Homo sapiens: one gene and its partners. The protein of the gene in region 3 purifies or fractionates together with the protein of the main gene of each other region. This does not show direct contact. Each region holds a gene or a part of one and is shown on either strand. Other genes may lie near its edges.

Region 1 (6,394 bases), on a different chromosome or scaffold from region 3:
GCAATCCCAGCACTTTGGGAGGCCAGGGCGGGCGGATCACGAGGTCAGGAGATCGAGACCATCCTGGCTAACACTGTGAAACCCCATCTCTACTAAAAATACAAAAAATTAGCCAGGCGTGCTGGTGGGCGCCTGTAGTCCAAGCTACTCAGGAGGCTGAGGCAGGAGAATGGCGTGAACCCGGGAGGCGGAGCTTGCAGTGAGAGATCGCACCACTGCACTCCAGCCTGGGCGACAGACCAAGACTCCGTCTCAGGAAAAAAAAAGAAATTAGAAATGAAGGAAATACAGGCTAAATACTAGCCAAGAGTGCCAGTTATACTGATGGTGGGGCTCTCACAAGAAGGAAAGTAGCCTCATACTATGGTGATGTTCTGGCCATCACGAAGTAAAAATAGGGGTGGGCTGGTGGGTCCCTCATACCTGGGCTTCCTCTTTTAAGGCTATCACTTCAAATTAATCAGAACTCAGATTTACAAGAGAAGACCTATCAAGGGTAGGACACCATTCAGCATCAGTCTCTTAAAGATTGTTCTCATACAAGATTTATTCCCCAGCACACCCCTCCCCTCCTCAGTTCACAGTGGAGACTATGGAGATTCAGGGCAGGATCCCTCAGGTACAAGAAACACCTTCCGAAGATTTTGCTCTCCTTCCTTCCCTCCCTCTTGCCAACTCCCAAGGCCTGAAGCGCACACTCATGCAAACACACGAAATCCCCCTCCTTCCCCACACCTCCTGTCTTTCCACATCAGAGCTCTGAACTTGAGAGGTGTCAAAAGTCTGTTTGAGAAGCCTAAAGTGGGGAGATGCCATTACCCCTGACCACCCCACTATGAGTGACTATGAGACACCTAACTCTTCCCTCTTCTGTCAACCATTTTCACTCCCTGGCCTCTGTACCTTCTCCATCAACCAAGAGCAAACATGTCAGCACACCCCCACCTGCAGTACATGAAAACAGGCTCTGTCCAACATCCCTCACCCAAGTACAGGGGTGTTGGGGGAGTGGCCCCTGAGGATCAGCAAAGGGTTAATGCAGAAGGAAAGAGGACAGAAGCGTTTGGCTTGAGCTCTGCTTGGGGAGGCAGAGGCTATAGACTGGCACAGGTTTAGAATCAAGTACCATGTTTAGGTTTCTGTCTCACATCACATGATTTCACTAGGGGCTGCAGAACAGATACCCCTCAGAGGGGTCTCTGCTGATTACAGCCACATTCTTACTATTGGCTCATCCTTAAAGGAGGCCCCACCAAGTTGGGAAGCAGTTGAAAATAAAAGCTGTAAAGGAGCTGAACAGGAAGTAAGAATAGGTGGTGCAAGAGATTATGGCCCCTGGGATGAATGACATGGAGCCATTTGTAAAGTGCTACTGTATCATCCCCCATGAATTATTGCTTCTCCAAAGGAGGAGCAGAGGAAGGAACAGGAACATAGAAATGAGTATGGTATTGCTTTGCTCACTGCTGAGGCTGATGGCCAGATGGACCCAGGGGTTATCAGAAACCGAAGATTAACTACACAGCTCCAGAAGACTCAGACCTCAAAATACAGAGGTGCTCACTAATCCTCCCAGCCAGCTGATCCCCCTGGGCCAAGGTAATGTAGAAGAGGCCCATCCCCACATCATATTCACATTTTTTAAATTTCACAAGCAATACTTTGGACCACTGGGGTTCAGGCCCCAAGAAATGATGGGCTAGATGAGAGGGAGCAGGCCTGTTCTGCAAAACCAAAGGACAAGTTTGCTTTAAAAAAAAAAAAAAATCACGCTGGGCACAGTGGCTCACACCTGTAATCCCAACACTTTGGGTGGCTGAGGCGGGCTGATCATTTGCAGTCAGGAGTTCTAGACCAGCCTGGCCAGCACGGTGAAACCCCATCTCTACTAAAAACACAAAAAAATTAGCCGGGCATGGTGGTGCATGCCTGTAATCTCAGCTACTGAGGAGGCTGAGGTAGGAGAATCGCTTGACCCGGCAGGCGGAGGCTGCAGTGAGCCGAGATTGTGCCACTGCACTCCAGCCTGGGCAACAGAGAGAGACTCTGTCTCAAAAAAAAAAAAAAGAAAAGAAAAGAAAAGAAAAAAATCAAATCCTGGTTTAACAAAAGATGACGACTAATCCCAGCACTCTGGGAGGCCAAGGCAGTCAGCTCACTTGAGGTCAGGAGTTTGAGACCAGCCTGGCCAACATGGTGAAACCCCATTTCTACTAAAAATACCAAAAGAAAAATTAGCCGGGCATAGTAGCGGGCACCTGTAATCCCACTACTAAGGAGGCTGAGGCAGGAGAACCTCTTCAACCTGGAAGGCAGACGTTGCAGAAAGCCAAGATCACACCACTGCACTCCAGCCTGGGCAACAGAGCGAAACTGTCTCAAAAAAAAAGATGATGACAATGTAACTACTCCAGCTGCTGCCTGACTTTGGGGGCTCTAGAGAGGCGATGAAAGGAGGAAGGCAGGCATGGGCTCTTTCAGTGAGGGCCCCTGAGCACTCATACCTAAAAGCAAACAGCAGCACCTCCTCAAAGGGGAACCAATATCCCTGACTATTTTGTTCCCCCAAAGTACCATCCTGATGGAGAGAAGCCTCCCTTGGGGGAGCACACTCTCACTTCAGTGACTGAGCTCAGAAATGGGCATCCAGCTGGTGGGAGGGGAGTGAGTGTCCTCTCTAAGGAGGCCTCTGAGCATCAGCCAGGCCACCCAGCATACAAATATAATTCAGGGGAGGGGAGCTGAGTTCTTCCCTTGCCCCATCACCTTAAGTGGGATGGGGAGAAAAAAACCTAAACCACAGTGACTCCCAAAAGGAGTCTCTGCCTCAGTGGCTCCTAGAACTGGCAGGGTCCAGCTGACTCAGCTCCGACTGGTCCAGAAGTTCAAAGTCATCCCCCTCAGCATCAGTGTCCAGGTCTGAACTGGGGGACCGGAGGAAGCCTCTCGTTGCTCTCTGGGCAGGTGCTCCAGAAGGGCCTGGTTGGGAGGCCCCTGACAAGGCCAGCTGAATCATACCCTGGGAGACCAGGCTGGCAAGGTTGCTGGTGAGGTTGGATCCTACAGGAAGAGCACCAAGCAGGAGCTCCGGCAGCGCAGCCTCGTCCCGGCTGGCAGGTGGGGCCTGGGGCTCCTCAGCCCCTGGCGGAGAACGGTACATCAAGCTGGGCATGCCAATGCTAGTGTCGTCCTCATCATCCAGGCCAGCAGGATCCATATTAATGGAAGGGAAGTCTGGAAGGTCTCTGGCAAAGGATTCCTCTGGATCACTGTGACCATCTAGGTCTGGTGGAATACAGAAGTGTCTGAGTCATGGCACCTACCTGGCCCTCCTGTGCCCCAGCCCCACATGACCAGATTTTTCCCACCCTGGCTTTCTCAGGGCGAAATAAACCCATGGGACTGGTATACCTTTCCCCTCCACTTATAGGTGGCTGTGATCTCTACACAATTCCCCCTCTCTTCTATGTCCCCTGTGAGGCTAGTGCCTGAGGCTACTAAGGGACTAAAGTCTTCAAGAAGGGCAGCAGTGCCATCCTGGCTGTAGCCACAGCACTCAGGCTGCTCTGCCGCCTGATCCATAGCTCAGAAAACAGGAGAGGGGCAAGCACCAGTATCCCCTCTGTTCAGGGAAGCTAAGAGGCAACAGTCAGAGCCATTATCAACTGAGGTCAAAGGCTCCCCTCACCTTCAGAGCCTTCCGTTAGAGGTGTTTGGCCCCTTGAAAGATTGAATGTGCCATTGTCTGTACAGGAGACTTCAGCGTCTGAGTGCTCAGAGTCTGTGATGGCCAATTCCCTGGCAACAGTAGAATCGTCCAGCTTAGGAAAAGACCAACAAATGTGAGATAATGCCATCAGGAACCAGGTGTAGTCACCAGGTACAGCTTTACTAATCAGCTAGCATTAGTTATCCGAAGGCCATCAAATCAATGTAACCAGGGATAGATGGTAACTTCCCGTTGAAAACTCCCTCTCCCCTTTATTTTTTTTTTAATCAATACATGTGAAAGTAACAACAACAAAAAAAATCTTGACCCCTTTTAGGCTGCTCTCCCAAAGAAAACACTCATTCATAACCTCTTAAGCACAGGAAGAAAAGCAGTCTTGGGGGAGTCAATTACCCACTTACTTTAAGGCAAATAATTGATCCAGAGATAATTTTTCAAAGTGGTAGGAGGATACACATACTGCACAGACCCAAGGGTGAACTGGGCTGTTTAAAAGATGATCATACTAGCTCCAGAAGTTCTTCCATAATGGTAGGGTAAAAAGAGATACGGAAGAGCGGTGCTGGGCATCAGGCTCTAATTGAGACCTAGGTTGATTACAGGAATGATATGATAAAGAAAAAAATTGAGATCTAGGAACAAAGTCTCACTTCTCTCCTTGTCTTGGGAACAAGGGGAGTCTAAGGCCTCAAACCTGGTTATGGCCTAAATGTGAGCTGTCGGATGGTTAAAAGGTAGCTAAAGAAAACTGGACAGTGAAGCAGCTCCCACACTCAAGATACCTGAGGACAGAAGGCAGCAAGCTCCTCTTCGCTGTCACTGTGGTTGTCCATGGCTCGTTCTGGGTGGAGAGCTCTGCGGCGTACTGTGGGAAGAGCACAAAGTCTTGCTTGATACCTTCTCCCAGCGTAAAATCCCCTTTGGACTTTAAAGACATAAAATCAGAACACAAAACAAAGAGCCTCTCTGAATCTGGCTCTAAGCCTACATAATAATAACAGAAGGCTGAGCTGCTGAGCCTAAATGCAAGGTGAGTTGAAAACACTGGAGAAAATATCTCAGCTTCCAACATCCTCTCCACCAGACCCTACATATTTCTTTTTTCTTTTGAGATGGAGTTTTGTTCTTGTTGCCCAGGCTGGAGTGCAATGGCGCGATCTCGGCTCACTGCAACCTCTGCCTCTTGGATTCAAGCAATACTCCTGTCTCAGCCTCCTGAGTAGCTGAGATTACAGGTGCTCACCATCACACCTGGCTAATATTTGTATTTTTAGTAGAGACGGGGTTTCATCATATTGGTCAAGCTGGTCTCGAACTCCTGACCTAAGGTGATCCGCCCACCTCAGCCTCCAAAAGTGCTGGGATTACAAGTGTGAGCCACTGCGCCCGGCCTGGCACACATTTCTATTCTGGTCAGATGATCAAATACCAGGCTTTGTCAACAACTCTCTGGATGGCTAAAGGCAGACCTAATGTCAAGGTGTTAAGTGGACATGATCAAAGAGAGGGCAAAAGGAGATGCACACCTTGTTAAATCAGACTTTTGAGGACTGGTATTATTCAACTGGCTGCCCCAAGGGGACTTGGGCCTTGGTGACCAAGTGCAGGGCTCTTTGAAGGCCAGGCCTCCATAAAACACAAAACCTGACAAGACCACACAAGGGAGGGAAAAGTTTGTACTACCATCATTGTGTTGCATGGATCTCAGGCTAGTACACTTACAACCTCTGAGGCAGCAGTTTTTAATCACCTTTGGGAGGCAGCTTTTACTAGTGAAGAGACCAGGCTTAGGAGTTGAAAGGATCTGCTCTGGGCTCAGCACGGTGGCTCACACCTGTAATCCCAACACTTTGGAACGCCAAGGCAGGAGGATCGCTTGAGCCCAGGAGTTCAGGATCAGCCTGGGCAACATGAGACCCCATCTCTACAAAAAAATTTAAAAATCAGATAGATGTGGTGACACATGCCTGTAGTCCCAGCTACTGAAGGGTTTGGCGGGGCTGAGTAGAAGGATCACTTGAGCCTGGGAGGTCAAGGGTGCAGTGAGCCATGATCATGCCACTGCACTCCAGCCTGGGAAACAGAATGAGACCCTGTCTCAAAAAAAAAAAAAAAAAAAAAACAAACCACAAATACTAGGAATTTATCTTCACTGTCTAGCTTTTATTCAACTTGAAAGAGCTTTTATCAGATAGGTTTAAAACGGGAGCCTAGGATTACAAATGATAAAAACTGGCAAGCCTGCACAGGTTTCCCTAGAACAGAATATCATTTTTACCTATCAATCCTCACCCCCACCAACTACCCCCGACTTCCACTTTTGAGGACCCACCCAGTATGTCAGACCTATGGGCTTCTCCTTTTCGCCCCAAATTGCGTAAGTGGAAAGAATGACACCATGACACTTACATTGTCTCTCTCTCTGCTTGGACATCATGTAGCCACGGACACTGAAGTCTAGCCGCTGCAGAGCTGGCTTCAGCCGCACATATGCTCGATCCCACAGTCGGTGGTACACAGCAAGGGGCCACATCATGACAGTGACAACTGTGAGGAGGCATGGGAAACAGTGACAAAATGGAGAAGGGGCTGCAAAAAACATTCCCAACTGTAGCGCTGCTATTGGTCCTTAGGGCTTGGACACAAAGTGTGGAACAGATCTGC
Region 2 (7,034 bases), on a different chromosome or scaffold from region 3:
CCCCGTCTCTACTAAAAATACAAAAATTAGCCAGGCATGAGGGCGCATGCCTGTAATCCCAGCTATCTGGGAGGCTGAAGCGGGAGGCTGCAGTGAGCCGAGATCGTGCCGTTGCTCTCCAGCCTGGGGGACAGAGCAAGATTCTGTCTCAAAATAAAAAAACGAGGGAAAGCACTGCTTAGATCAGCCACCAGTGGGACACTGGGAAGGCCAGCACGCCCTGGGTCCCTCTGTGCAGGACCAGCCTCTGGGCATTGCACCTGCCTTTGAGACCCAGGAGGCAGAAAACAGTCATTTTGAGATTTTTGTCTTAACAGGTGATGAAACCACAGGGTTTAAAATTCAGGGAACTTAAAGGCAGGCACGACGTACAGTCTCTCTCCTGCTGACTCCCCTCCCTGGTGCACAGGCAGCCCGCAGGACCCACACCCCCGGATGTGTCCGGGGAGCTTATGCACACACATGCACGGGGCGTGATATGCACGCACACGCGGTACCCCCCGCCGCGTCCCTGCAAGATGCTGGCCTGTCCTGTGTTCGCCTGCTTGGAGCCTCCACAGCATCACAGGCTGCATGGTCTTTGGGTCATTCCTTCCTCTTTTTTTTTTTCTGGAGAGATGGTTTCTCCCTATGTTGCCCAGGCCAGTCTGAACTCCTGGCCTCAAGCAGTGATTCTCCTGCTTTGGCCTCCCAAAGCGCTGGGATTACAGGCGTCAGCCACCATGCCTGGCCTCTTTTATTTTTTAAAAAAGTAAACCTCTGTTTGGATGTAATTTTAGATTTATGAAAAGCGGCAAAGGCATTTGAGGACTCCTGCCGCCGCCCCCGCAGCTTCCCACTGGCCAGCATCGCACGCCCCCGCATGCAAGTGTCAGGTCTAGGGAGGCACCCAGCACACTGTCAGTGGGCTGCATGCTCCGCTTAGAGGCTGCGGCGCCCGCTGATGTCCGATTCCTGGCGGGGCCCACCGGGGGCCCCTGCTGCACCGTGTCCTCAGTACCTGGCTGCCGCCATGTGGCCACCCTCACCATCTACACAGCTAGGCCCCGCTGGGGGTCATTTCTCTGGAGTTTCCAGTCCTCTGCCACCACAGATGCTGCCGTGGCTCATGGCCTCGGGCATGCGTCACCCCTGGGGAGGTGACGCTGGTGAAGCTGCCCGGGGCAGGGAGAGCGGGGCTGTCGCCTCTTGCCCCACAGCAGTGCACAGAGTGTGTGGGGAGGTGGCGCTGGTGAAGCCGCCCAGGACAGGGAGAGCGGGGCTGTCCCCTCTCGCCCCACAGCAGCGCACTGAGCGTGGGGCCTCACTAAGCCAACGGTGGACATGAAGTCGCTGTGCGCTGTGGTTTGATTTCTCTCATTACAAGGGGGGCCGGGCTCTCCTAAGACCCGCTGGGTTTCTTTCTCAAGAGCGTTCACCTTCTGTCCACCTCGGGCAGGGACCGCATGCTCAGCTTCTCCCGTGACCTGCGGGAGATGACCCAGGCTCCAATGAGAAGAGCCAAGTCGCTGCTGCCGCACGTGCACGAGGGCCGAGGGGGCAGGGAGGTCTCTGAGGGTCACATGTGGGCACTCACCTCATGCCGGGATCTCAGGACCACCCAACACGGGCACAGGCCTGTCCACCCAGCTCAGCCTGGGAGAGCTGGGGACGCACCGGGGAGGCGGCTCACAGGAGGCACTGGAGCCCAGGGAAGGGCCAGTGGGAGCCGAGCTGGCAGCTGGGAGCTCAGGAGGACTCGGAGGATGACGAGCAGTGCCTTGACCTGCAGCCACAGCCTCTGCAGGAGGGGGAAGCACCCCAAAGGCTGGCAGAGCTGGGAGTCCCAGGCACACGCTCACTATGACTCTAACTCAGATCCCTGGGGCAACGTCACTCAGGCTCTTGGGGTGGCAGGTGACAGACCAGCTTCAGCGGCACATCCGAGGGGTGCACAAACCACAGATCCCAGCCACCCTGGAGGGCCTGGCGCCAGGCGCAGGTGCAGGAGGGGAGAGGCCTGCAGATCGAGGGGCCCTGAAGGGAGAGGAGTCACCATCCCAGGAAACCTGGGACCTTATCTGGATTCTGATCTGTGCACTGGCGTGAGAGTACCGCAGTCTTGTGGGGCAGGAACCCCAGAACAGGAGCTTGCTAATGGGAGCCCAGGAAACCAAAGGCACCCACGGCTCCGTGAGCAGCGTCACCCGTGGGGAGCTCCCGCCGTGCCAAGGACAAGGGAGACACGTCGGGGACGTGGGCGAGAACAGTCACTCTCTGCAACTGAGAATTACAAATTATTCCAAAATAAAAAGCCTATTTAAAAAGCCACAAATTTGGCCAGGCACAGTGGCTCACGCCTGTAATCCCAGCACTTTGGGAGGCCGAGGCGGGTGGATCACGAGGTTAGGAGTTTCAGACCAGCCTGACCAACACATGGTGAAACCCCGTCTCTTACTAAAAATACAAAAATTTGCTGGGTGTGGGGGCACACACCTGTAGTCCCAGCTACTCGGGAGGCTGAGGCAGGAGAATCGCTTGAACCTGGGAGGTGAAGGTTGCAGTGAGCCAAGATCATGTCACTGCACCCCAGCCTGAGTGACAGAGAGCGACTCCATCTCAAAAAAAAATAATAATAGTTTAAAAAAAGGGCCGGGTGCAGTGGCTCACACCTGTAATCCTAGCACTTTGGGAGGCTGAGAAAGGCGGATTGCCTGAGCTCGGGAGTTCGATACCAGCCTGGGCAACACGGTGAAACCCCGTCTCTACTAAAATACAAAAGAAATTAGCCAGGCGTGGTGGCGGGCGCCTGTAGTCCCAGCTACTCGGGAGGCTGAGGCAGGAGAATTGCTTGAACCCAGGATGTGGAGGTTGCAGTGAGCTGAGATTGCACCACTGCGCCCCAGCCTGGGTGACAGAGCAAGACTCTGTCTCAAAAAAAAAAAAAAAAAAAAGAAAAGAAAAAAGGCAGAAATTTAAGACACCAACACAAACACTTCTGGGCACCTGGCAGCCTTAGAGAGTGACTGTGAGTTTCTCAGGTGTGGTAACAGCACCAGGTATGTGTGTTTTTACAGATGTACAGGTCTTCCTCCTGCAGCGATCCGTGCAGAAACATCAGCAGCCAGGAACTGGCTCCCAGACCCCGGGTCAGGGGTGTGATCAACACTCAGGAGACAAGCCTGGCTGGGCGCTGGCGAGGACGCAGGCACTGCCAGGGCGAGCTCGGACCCCTCCCTAGGAGAGTGCCTACAATCGCGAACCATGGCTGGGTGCTGGCGAGGACGCGGGCGCTGGCGAGGACGCGGGCGCTGCCAGGGTGAGCTCAGACCCCTCCCTAGGAGAGCGCGTACAATCCCGGACCAGCACGCTCCGGTGGCCGCCTGGCTTCCCAGCAGGCCCACAACCTGGCAGCTGAGCCACATCACAGCCACCACGCCCATCAGAGAGAGGCTTACCACGCGCCCCAGCCGGAGAAGCCAATCGCCTGGATGACGGTCAGGACAAACTGGGCTCCGAAGATGAAGAAAAACGCCATGAAATTAAAGGAGCTGTCGGCTCTGGGGAGGGACAGAAAACACGACGGTTACCACAGCCCTGGCTTCTCCCAGACGCGCCTAGAGAGGAACGGGCCAGTCAGAGATGGTGAGAGCGGAGGCTCTATTTTATTCCTTTTTTTTTTTTTTTGAGATGGAGTCTCACTCTGTCGCCCAGGCTGGAGAGCAGTGTCGAGATCTCGGCTCACTGCAACCTCTGCCTCCCGGGTTCAAGCGATTCTCTTGCCTCAGCCTCCTGAGTAGCTGGGATTATAGGCGCCCGCAACCACGCCTGGCTAATTTTTGTACCTATAGTAGAGACAGCGTTTCACCATGTTGGCCAGGCTGGTCTTGAACTCCTGACCTCAGGTGATCCGCCTGCCTCGGCCTCCCAAAGTGCTGGGATTATAGGCCTGAGCCACTGCACCCAGCCAAAATTACTAGAAAGCAAAACAAAACAGACAGTAGTTGGCTCTGGCTTGTGGGCCACAGTTTGCCACCCCCAGATGTGAACTGTCTTTCACACTGGGCAGAGAAAGGGACAGCTCCTCACAGCTGGGCTGGGACTGGGGTGCAGAGTGGGCCCTGGTTCCCTCTGGGTGCAGACGGCCCCCGGCAGCTCTGCTCACCGGAAGGCCTTGTAGACAGGCCGGAACCAGCACACGTAGCCGCAAGGCGTGAACAGGAGCAGCCACACGAAGGCCAGGCCGAAGTTGGTCCCCGAGCCTCCGCCGATCCACCAGGCCAGGCAGGCAATGAGGTTGACGCCGAGGGTGGCGCAGTAAACTGCGAAGAGAGAGGGAGGACGGATGAGCAGGCACGGGAGGGTGTGGCCGTGGGAAAGCATGGGCCCAGCAATGGGGCACCCGCTGTCCGCCTCCCCAGCCCAGTGACCCCATGTCGAGGATGAACTGTGCAAGCCAAGACACTGGGGCCTGGACACCAGCCTCGTTCACCGCAGGGACCACCAGGCCCAGGACGGCTTCAGTAGACGGTGGGCCCCCGACGGGCTGCCCCTGCCTGAATGCCACTCCCTCCCTCGGGGAGCCCTGCCTCCCGCTTCCCGCCTCCTGCCCCCAGGCGCACTCACACATCCACAGCCGGTAGATCCTCTTCACCAGGACCTGGTGCTCCACTGGGATCTCGTCGGAGAAGTTCTGGTAGAAGCAGGGCTTCACAGGGATGAACTTGGGCAGTGGCGGGAAGTTGTTCTCCTTTTCTGTAGGGACAGAGAACCCACGGACAGAACCAGACTTTGTCTCTTGAAGGAGGCCCCACCTCATCCCTTCGACCCAAGGCTGGGTTGCCTCTCATGGCAGAAGGGACTCTGCAGTTGGGATTGAGGGCAGGACGCTGAGACAGGAGAGGGTCCTCGTGGCAGCCTCACGAGAGGAGACGGGAGGGTGGGAGTCAGAGAGAAACGGGAAGAGGCTGCGCTGAGGCTGTGAAGGGGGAGAAAGGGGCCCTGAGTGGAGGGATGGGGGCGCCTCTAGACGCTGGGCAAGGCGGGAACCGGCCTACAGCTTGATGTTAGCGTTTCTGGTCTCCAGAACTGTCAGATAACTGATTTCACTGTTTTAAGGAACTAAGTTTATGACTCTTTTTTTGAGACGGAGTCTCGCGCTGTCTCCCAGGCTAGAGGGCAGTGGTGCGATCTCGGCTCACTGCAGCCTCTGCCTCCCAAGCTCAAGTGATTCTTCTGCCTCAGCCTCCCAAGTAGCTGGGATTACAGGCGCCCACCACCACACCCGGCTAATTTTTGGATTTTTCTTTTTAGTAGACACGAGGTTTCACCATGTTGGCCAGGCTGGTTTTGAACTCCTGACCTCAAATAATCCGCCCACCTCTGCCTCCCAAAGTGCTGGGATAACAGGCGTGAGCCACCGCGCCCGGCCGAAATTGTTTTTTAAATTTACGTGTCACCCTTCATGCAGGGCCCTGCTACTCTTCGTAGCCCTCCTCCATGTTTAGTGTGGGTGCGGCTGCAGCAGGCTGCATTTAGTATCATTCCCTCCGGCAGGCAGGGACGCCAACATGCAGGCTCAGCAGGCCGAGTCCGCACACTGCGGGGAGGCTGTGGCCTGGGGACGCTTCCGTTCCCCATGGCTGCTGTGAGAAACCACCACCGACTGGGAGGCTTAGAACAACAGAAACTGCCCAGGTGTGGGGGCTCCCACCTGTGATCTCAGCACTTTTGGAGGCTGAGGCAGGAGGGCTGCTGGAGCCCAGGAGTTCCAGATCAGCCTGGCAACCTAGCGAGACCCCAACTCTACAAAAACTACAAAAATTAGCCAAGCGTGGTGGTGCGTGCCTGTGGTCCCAGCTTCTCGGGAGGCTGAGGCAGGAGGATCGCTTGAACCCAGGAAGTTAAAGCTGCAGTGAGCTATGATCACACCACTGCACTCCAGCCTGGGAGAGACCCAGACCCTGTCTCAAAACAAAACAAAGAACACAACAAATATTTATCTGCTAACAGTCCTGGAGGCCAGAAATCTGAGATCAAGGTGTCTCAGGAACGCGCTCCCTCTGCAGGCTCCGGGGAAGGAGCCTTCCTGCCTCTCTCAAGCAGCTTCTGGGGGATCCCAGCGCCCTTGGCTCATGGCCGCATAGCTCTGGCCTCTGCCTCCATCTCCACGACGACTCCTCCTGTATCTCCATGTCTTTTTTTTTTTTTTGAGATCCAGTCTCACTCTGTCACCCAGGCTGGAGTGCAGTGGCGTGATCTCGGCTCACCACAACTCCGCCTCCCAGGTTCAAGCGATTCTCCTGCCTCAGCCTCCCAAGTAGCTGGGACTACAGGTGCTGTGCCACCATGCCCAGCTAATATTTTTAGTAGGGATGGGGTTTCACTATGCTGTCCAGGCTGGTCTCAAACTCCTGACCTCATCATCTGCCCACCTCGGCCTCCCAAAAGTGCTGGGATTACAGGCGTGAGCCACCACGCCCGGACCATCTCTTTTTTTTTTTTCTGAGACAGTCTCGCTCTGTCACCCAGGCTGGAGTGCAGTGGCCCGATCTCGCTCACTGCAAGCTCCGCCTCCCGGGTTCACACCATTCTCCTGCCTCAGCCTCTCGAGTAGCTGGGACTACAGGCACCCGCCACCACGCCCAGCTAATTTTTTGTATTTTTAGTAGAGACGGGGTTTCACCGTGTTAGCCAGGATGGTCTCGATCTCCTGACCTCGTGATCCACCCGCCTCGGCCTCCCAAAGTGCTGGGATTACAGGCGTGAGCCACCGTGCCCGGCCTCCATCTCTTCTTATAAACACAGCAGGCACTGGGATGAGAGCTCGCCCTGCTCCAGTACTTTATCTTAACTCCATCACGTCCGGAGTTAAGGCCATATTCCCAAATGAGGTCCCACTCACAGGTTCCAGGGATCAAGATGGGAACACAGCCTTTGGGGCACTCAGCGTGGCACTGGGAGCCCCCCAGGAGCTTCTGCTCAGCCAGCACTGCCTGAGGAAGTGTCCCTGGGCGCCTGCGAGGGCCAGATGGGGAGTCAGACAGCAAGAGGCC
Region 3 (7,000 bases):
TTTAATATTTTTTACATCATGAGACATTGTTATGATCTTACCTGATTGTTATCTCAAGGTGAGCTAATCATCTTTATTTGCCTTAAAAAATACTGTACTGGCTGGATATTTAATCTTGTTAGTTTAGTTATACACTTGTTTTAGTCGAGTTTAATTCAAAAGGACTCTTAACAGTATGGTGTAAAACTCAGATTTTCTAGTCCAGACAAATTGCTCTCTATAACGATTTGGCAGATCAATGGAGACATCCGTTTTAACTTTACTGTTCTGTACTTACTATGTAGTCATGTGCAGCTTATCAACACAAAGAATACGGATGAGGGCATTTAAATGGACTACAAGTGACTCTGACTTGTAAACTAGGGAAGCCTCTTGTGTTTGACCTTAAAGGCCAGAGAAAAACTGAAGATAGATTGACTTAACTATTGCCAAGCAGATTATGGGTTACTTTATACTTCCTTTCATTCTCCCAGAATTGCTCTTAGAGCTAGGTGTCGTCATTAGCATGTTGTTGCTAATGATACAAACAAGAACATACATGTAATCAGAGGTGGACAAATCTTCAGAAGTTCCTTAAACTGGTTTAAAAAAGAAGATTGGGAAAGAAGACTAAATCAACATGTTTCTCCGCTTTGAAGATAAAACCAGAAATGGTTTCCATTGTAGCATCTTGACAATAGACAAATATGTAAAGTTTATAGCAGATAAGACAGTATTACTAGTTTTTCAGGGAATTGAGAGTTACAGGTTACTCTGTGTGTGTGTGTGTGTGTGTGTGTGTGTGTGTGTGTGTGTAAATTTCCCGATTTATCACTAGAGTGAGTAACTAACTAACTAACTGCTTTATAAAGCTATCCTGGTATTCATATGCCATATACTACGGAAACAACCAGGCCAATCTCCATTCGATTTCATTTCTCACTTTGTTCACTTGCATATTAATCACGTATTTCCTAAAGTATTATTTAGTAGACCACACCAGCACAATGGTTCCTCCAGCTTTTGGCAGGTGGTCTTACTGTACAGAAGTTATAAATGACACATACAACCTTCCCCTGCTCCCTCCCCATGAGCATGATGCATGTTGTAGTCAGACAGTAACATTTCCATATGTACATGTGCACAAATACATTAAAAACATTTCAGAATTATATAAAATTGTACATTACAGGAAGTAGAACCATAAAGATTATCCTAAATGTAACTACAGAGAAAATGCGTGCAGGGAGAGCCCAGTAAAGTACACAGCCTGTGGGGTATATAATTTTATTTTAAGTTTATATTTCCTGCAGGATAGCAACATACATCTTTTCCTACCCAGAGGCAAAATACATTTTCCAAAAACGTGGACACTGCCCACTGCATTAAGTTTAAAGTGCTCCCTATATATATAGACAGTAAAAGTAAGCAAAGAAACTTACAACACATTCCAATCTTTAATATCTCAAAAATGTTTCCAAGGCAACATTATTAAAATAATTATACCACAGTCCCTAATATAACATCAAGCTCCAGTAGGAAGGTACAGAGAGGGCAGGAAGTTTCCATCCAGTCTGGTTTAGGTGCTCTTCTTTTCTTCACCCAGTAAATTCACGGTAGCTTTCTTCGCTGTTTGTTTGTTAGGAGGGAAAGAAAAATATATCAAAGCTCTTTCTTTGGAATGCAAGCTTGCAAGCTTTGTGCCTAATGTAGCTACTAGATAACAAAACTTGGATGACTCATGTTCAGGTGCGATCATGTTGGGGTTTGTGGTCTGGGCTAAGAGGGTTTCCAGGAAATGGAGAAGGTACCTCTTAGAGCACAAATCCTAAATACTTGAGCAAAATACTTGAAGGTCATCTAGCCTAGCCCCTTGTTGTGACAGTGTCACCGAAACTGTCTGCCCTCTATTCTCCTTTAAGCATTGAAAGAAGCAGAGATTCCTTAAGAGTAGTGTTCAAATTCTATTTGTATCTGTGTGCTTGCCTGTAAGATTTCACTTATCAATATATTATCAATCTGATGACAACTAGGTCATCATATTTATCCCATGGCGACAAATCAGAGAAGTCCTCATTCCCAGCACTAGAAATACAGTCATCCCTTGATATATGTGTTTGGGGGGGGGGGCTGGGGGGGCGGTGGGGGAGAGGAGATTAGTTCCAGGAACCCTACAGATACCAAAATCTGTGAGTGCTCAAGCCCTTAAATAGAATGGCATACATAGTATTTCCATATAACCTATGTGCTTTCATATACTTTATTTATTTACTTATTTATTTTTTGAGACGGAGTCTCGCTCTGTCACCCAGCCTGGAGTGCAGTGGCGCGATCTCGGCTCACTACAGGCTCTGCCTCCCGGGTTCATGCCATTCTCCTGCCTCAGCCTCCCGAGTAGCTGGGACTACATGCACTCACCACCACGCCCAGCTAATTTTTTTTTGTATTTTTAGTAGAGATGGGGTTTCACTGTGTTAGCCAGGATGGTCTCAATTTCCTGACCTCGTGATCTGCCCGCCTTGGCCTCCCAAAGTGCTGGGATTACAGACGTAAGCCACCATGCCCGGCCTCTTCCATATACTTTAAATTCGGCCAGGCATAATGACTCATGCCTGTAATCGCAGCACTTTGGGAGGCTGAGGTGGGAAGATCGCTTGAAGCCAGGAATTTGAGACCAGCCTGGCCAATATGAATGGTGAGACCCCCACCCCCCACCTCTATTTTAAAAAAATTTTAAAAGCCCATCTCTAGTTAAAGTACCTAATGCAACATGAATGCTATATAAATTGTTGTTATACTAAATTGTTTTTAAAATCTGTATTTATACTCTTATTGTGCCACCATTCTCTCCTATGATGAGAAGAGTTTGCTCTAAGTCTTTGAGTTGGTGACAAGACACTACATTCATCAAGAAAACATTCTGTCCAGGTGTGGTGGCTCATGTCTATAATCCCAGAGCTTTGAGAGGCTGAGGTAGGAGTATTCCTTGAAGCCAGGAGTTTGAGATCACCCTGGCCAAAACACAGTGAGAGCCCATCTCTATAGAAAAAAAAGAAAAATATATTTTCTTACTTCTGCAGGAGACCAAGCCTTCCACTTTCTAATTACCAAGTGGCAGGGAATGTGCTATGAGAACCAGTACAGTGTGTAAGATGGAGGGGAAAGGGGTTGTCTAGAAGCCTCCAGGGCCCACTGTGAGATTTTACAATCTGCAGCTGTTCTTGATGGAGCCAGAGCCTTAGTGATGAGAGCCAAGGAGTCCCTTCTTGTCCACCAGCTGCCTGATAGTTGCTCTCCCTTTGCTCAGTTAAAATTACTGAACCAAGTTCACAGCAAAGGAGAAAATGTAGTCCTTCCCTTAACTAACCCTTTGTAGAAATTCCTAGTTAATCCAAAAGCTTTGAGAAAAGTCTAAAATGTGGCAGCATGTAAATTCCTCCTAACTTATTTTAATTCTCTTGCCCCTATTTAGGAATGTGTCATAACAAAGTAAGATTGGATTTTAAGTATTGATATCTAAGAGAACCAAGAGGCTAAGAAATGTGGGTGAAGTAGACAGAAATGACATCACCACAGGTTGCTGATTAGGCTAAGGGAAGGGAGAAGAAAAGAAAGCTCTTAAAAATAAGCTGGTAATCCTGGCTGGGCATGGTGGCTCATGCCTGTAATCCCAGCATTTTGAGAGGCCGAGGTGGGTGGATCACTTGAGGCCAGGAGTTTGAAACCAGCCTGGCCAACATGGCATAACGGTGTCTCTACTAAAAATACAAGTATCAGCTGGGCGTGGTGGCCCACACCTGTAATCACAGCTACTTGGGAGGCTGAGGCAGCAGAATCCCTTGAACCTGGAAGGTGGAGGCTGCAGTGAGCTGAGATCATGCTACTGCACTCCAGCCTGGGCAACAGAGTGAGACTCTGTTTCAAAAAAAAAAAAAAAAAAAAAAAGCTGGCAATCCTAAAGTGGGAGGAGGTTAAGGCTACAAGTTAAAAAATACCTAAAACATATTCAAGTAGACTGGATTTGTATGCCCAAAAATAGGAGTCCAGAGAAGAGAGGTCTGTGAGGGAGAAATGGGGAACATACCACTTCTGGGGCATCAGTGCTGCTGGAGAACTGTCTTGGGATTTTACTTCCCCATGGTCAGGCAACCTCACAACTCCCATGTCTAACTACCACAGAGCTCTAAAACACAAAAACCTTTCTCCAATTTCTAAAATCTGAGTCCCTCTGGAACTCAAGACCCATCACTGGCAAAATCTATATCCTCATCCATTCCTCCGAATGTTTCCTTTACCTTCTTGCTCTTAGAGAAAGCTGGCTGTGCCCTGAGGACACTGCTTTCTCAAGTGGTGGCTGTTTCTTTCCTCTCATGACCCTAGTACAAATGGATCTGGTAGGTGTTGTTTTTGTTCTTCATTGCCACTTTCAGAATCTCATGTCATCAGATTCTATCACTGAGTAGCCTTCCCTTTCCCTGTCATCCCTGACTCTTGGGCTACTTTGCCTTAGTTCTTGAAGATTTTAGCTCCTAACTTAATGTTCCTTTCTAACACTACTCCTATTATTTATTTATTTAGAGACAGGGTCTCACTCTGTCACCCAGGCTGGAATGCAGTGATGCCATCTCAGCTCACTGCAGCCTCAACCTCCAGGCTCAGGTGATCCTCCCATCTCAGCCTCCTGAGTAGCTGGGACTACTGGTACGCATCACCACATCTGGCTAATTTTTGTGTTTTTTTTTTTTTGTAGAGACTGGGTTTCACCATGTTACTCAGGCTGGTCTCAAACACCTGAGCTCAAGCAATCCACCCACCTTGACCTCTGGAAGTGCTGTGATTACAGGTGTGAGCACTGCACCTGACCTACTACTCCTATTTTAATTATTGATGATTTTAATATCCATGTAGACATATGTGATGATCTTCTAATATCCTGACCTCTTAGTTCCTCCCCTCCAATAACCCTTATATTCCACCCTACATATGGCACTGACTCCCAGGATCCCTGTTAGTACCAATACTGCAGTCCCTCCATAATCTTGTATCAAGCATCCCACTCAGCCACCATCACCTTTTATCTTTGTAGTGCACTCCCCACCCTGCTTTTTTGCTCATTGTAGATGATGATGGAGTATTCCCGCTATTATCCTGATTCAGAGTTCTTCCACCACCACTTCCCACCTTACTCAGGTTAAATTCCATTGTCAAGCATTAACCACTCCACAGTCCCACCCTCACTTCATAGTTCTTGCTGGAAATCACAACCTTGACACAACTCTCCACCTACTCTGTAGCTATACCCATGTAGCTGAGTATGGCTGGAGAAAAACATAAACAAGAACTGGTTTCACTATAAATTCATGAACGCAAATCTCAAGCATGCCTTTAACACTGCCTGACAGTCCATTTACTCTCCAACTGTCCTAGAGGGGCCAGCACACTGCAGCCAAACTCGCTTATGTAGTGTCCATGGCTGTTTTCACACTACAATGGCAGAGAAGAGTAGCTGCAACAGAGACATGATAGCCCACGAAATTTAAAACATTTGTTATCTGGCCCTTTACAGAAAAAGATGAGCAGTCCCTCTCCTTCGCAACTATTTCATACCTTCTCTTTCCATTGTCTCCTTCCCCATCCTCTCTCAATTGGCCTTCCTACTTTACTGAGAAATATGAAACAATTAGAAAGTCACTTCTGTAGGCTCCCATAGTCACATGTGCTCACAGCATACCATAAAACCTGATTTCCCTGCTGTTACCATAAACTTCCAGCTCTTCGACCAATCCCTCTACTGTATACTGGATCCTTCACTGGTCAAGGACAGAGCTCCAACAATTCACCCTCTCACTCCTATCATCATTTTTTGCTCTGTTGAATTATTCCCATTAATTTTCAAACAGGCTTTGTTTCTCCTACCTTAAGAAAAAAACTTTTAAAATTTCAGGACCATAATTCCTTCTTCCAGTTATAGCCCCATTCTTCTGCTCTCCTTTGCAGGAAATTTCTCAAAAGAAAGATCTATATTCTCTCATCCCTTTTCTCTCATTCTCTCAAATCCATTGCAATCAGGAGTTTGATATCACTCCACAAAATCTGTGTTATCAAAATCACTAGTACCTTCCTCATTGCTAAATCTGCTCAGTTCTCAGTCCTTATCTTACTTGACCTGTTGACAGCATGTAACATGACAGATCACTTCTCCTCTCTGAAAGAAAAACTTTCTGTTCTTGGCCCCAGGGATACCACACGCTCATGGTTTTCTTGCTACCTCAATTGGCCACTCCTTATCAGTCTGCTTTGCTAGTTGCTTCTCATCTCTCCAGTCTCTAAACCTTAGACTCCCCAGCGTTCAGTCTTTGGACCTCCTGTTTCCTAACTACACTACCTTCGTGATCTCATCTAGTCTCATGCTTAATATGTATAAGCTTGTGGCCCCCAAATTTATATCTCCAGTCCAGACCTGTTTCTTGAACTCTTGACACCTGTATCCAACTAGCTATTTGACTAATCCTTGTAGGTATCTAACAAACAGACACCTCAAACAAATGTCCAGGACTAAATTCCATATCCTCCCACCCACCACAACCTCCCACCCCAACAAAACCTGTTCTACCCAGTCTTCTCCAGCTCAGTGGCAATTTTATCCTTCCATCTGTTCAGGCTAAAAAGCTCGTCCTTGTCCTTAACCCCTCTGACCCATGCCCAATCCATAAGCCAATCCATAAGCAAATCCCATTACTTCTACCTTTGAAATATATCAAGAATCTGATACTTCTTACCCCCTACTGCTACACAAGGAACCAAGCCACCATCATCACCTCCAGCCAGATCACTGCAAGAACCTTTTAACTGTTCTCCCAACTTCCTGCCTTACCCCTTCAGTCTGTTCCTAATACAGTGGCCACAGGCATCTTATTAAAACACAGGACAGATCATTTTGCTTCTGTGGTTAAAAGTCCCCAGTACCTCCACATCTCACATAGAGTAGAAGCCAAACCTTTACAATGGCCTATAAGGCATT

The links.
Region 1: the proteins of REEP5 (region 3) and RETREG3 purify together in Homo sapiens (affinity purification with mass spectrometry; 4 studies listed by BioGRID and IntAct, with this or other methods). This does not show direct contact.
Region 2: the proteins of REEP5 (region 3) and SCAMP4 purify together in Homo sapiens (affinity purification with mass spectrometry; 3 studies listed by BioGRID and IntAct, with this or other methods). This does not show direct contact.

What each region holds. Positions count from the first base shown.
Region 1 is NC_000017.11:42,578,986-42,585,379, forward strand, and holds the end of RETREG3 (reticulophagy regulator 3), read right to left. Parts: intron 6,278-6,394; coding exon 6,140-6,277; intron 4,596-6,139; coding exon 4,513-4,595; intron 3,822-4,512; coding exon 3,689-3,821; intron 3,286-3,688; coding exon 2,828-3,285; 3' UTR 530-2,827; downstream 1-529. UniProt on the Homo sapiens protein: Endoplasmic reticulum (ER)-anchored autophagy regulator which exists in an inactive state under basal conditions but is activated following cellular stress.
Region 2 is NC_000019.10:1,915,394-1,922,427, reverse strand, and holds part of SCAMP4 (secretory carrier-associated membrane protein 4), read right to left. Parts: intron 4,735-7,034; coding exon 4,606-4,734; intron 4,302-4,605; coding exon 4,145-4,301; intron 3,540-4,144; coding exon 3,438-3,539; intron 1-3,437. UniProt on the Homo sapiens protein: Probably involved in membrane protein trafficking.
Region 3 is NC_000005.10:112,877,228-112,884,227, forward strand, and holds part of REEP5 (receptor expression-enhancing protein 5), read right to left. Parts: intron 1,609-7,000; coding exon 1,559-1,608; 3' UTR 1-1,558. UniProt on the Homo sapiens protein: Plays an essential role in heart function and development by regulating the organization and function of the sarcoplasmic reticulum in cardiomyocytes.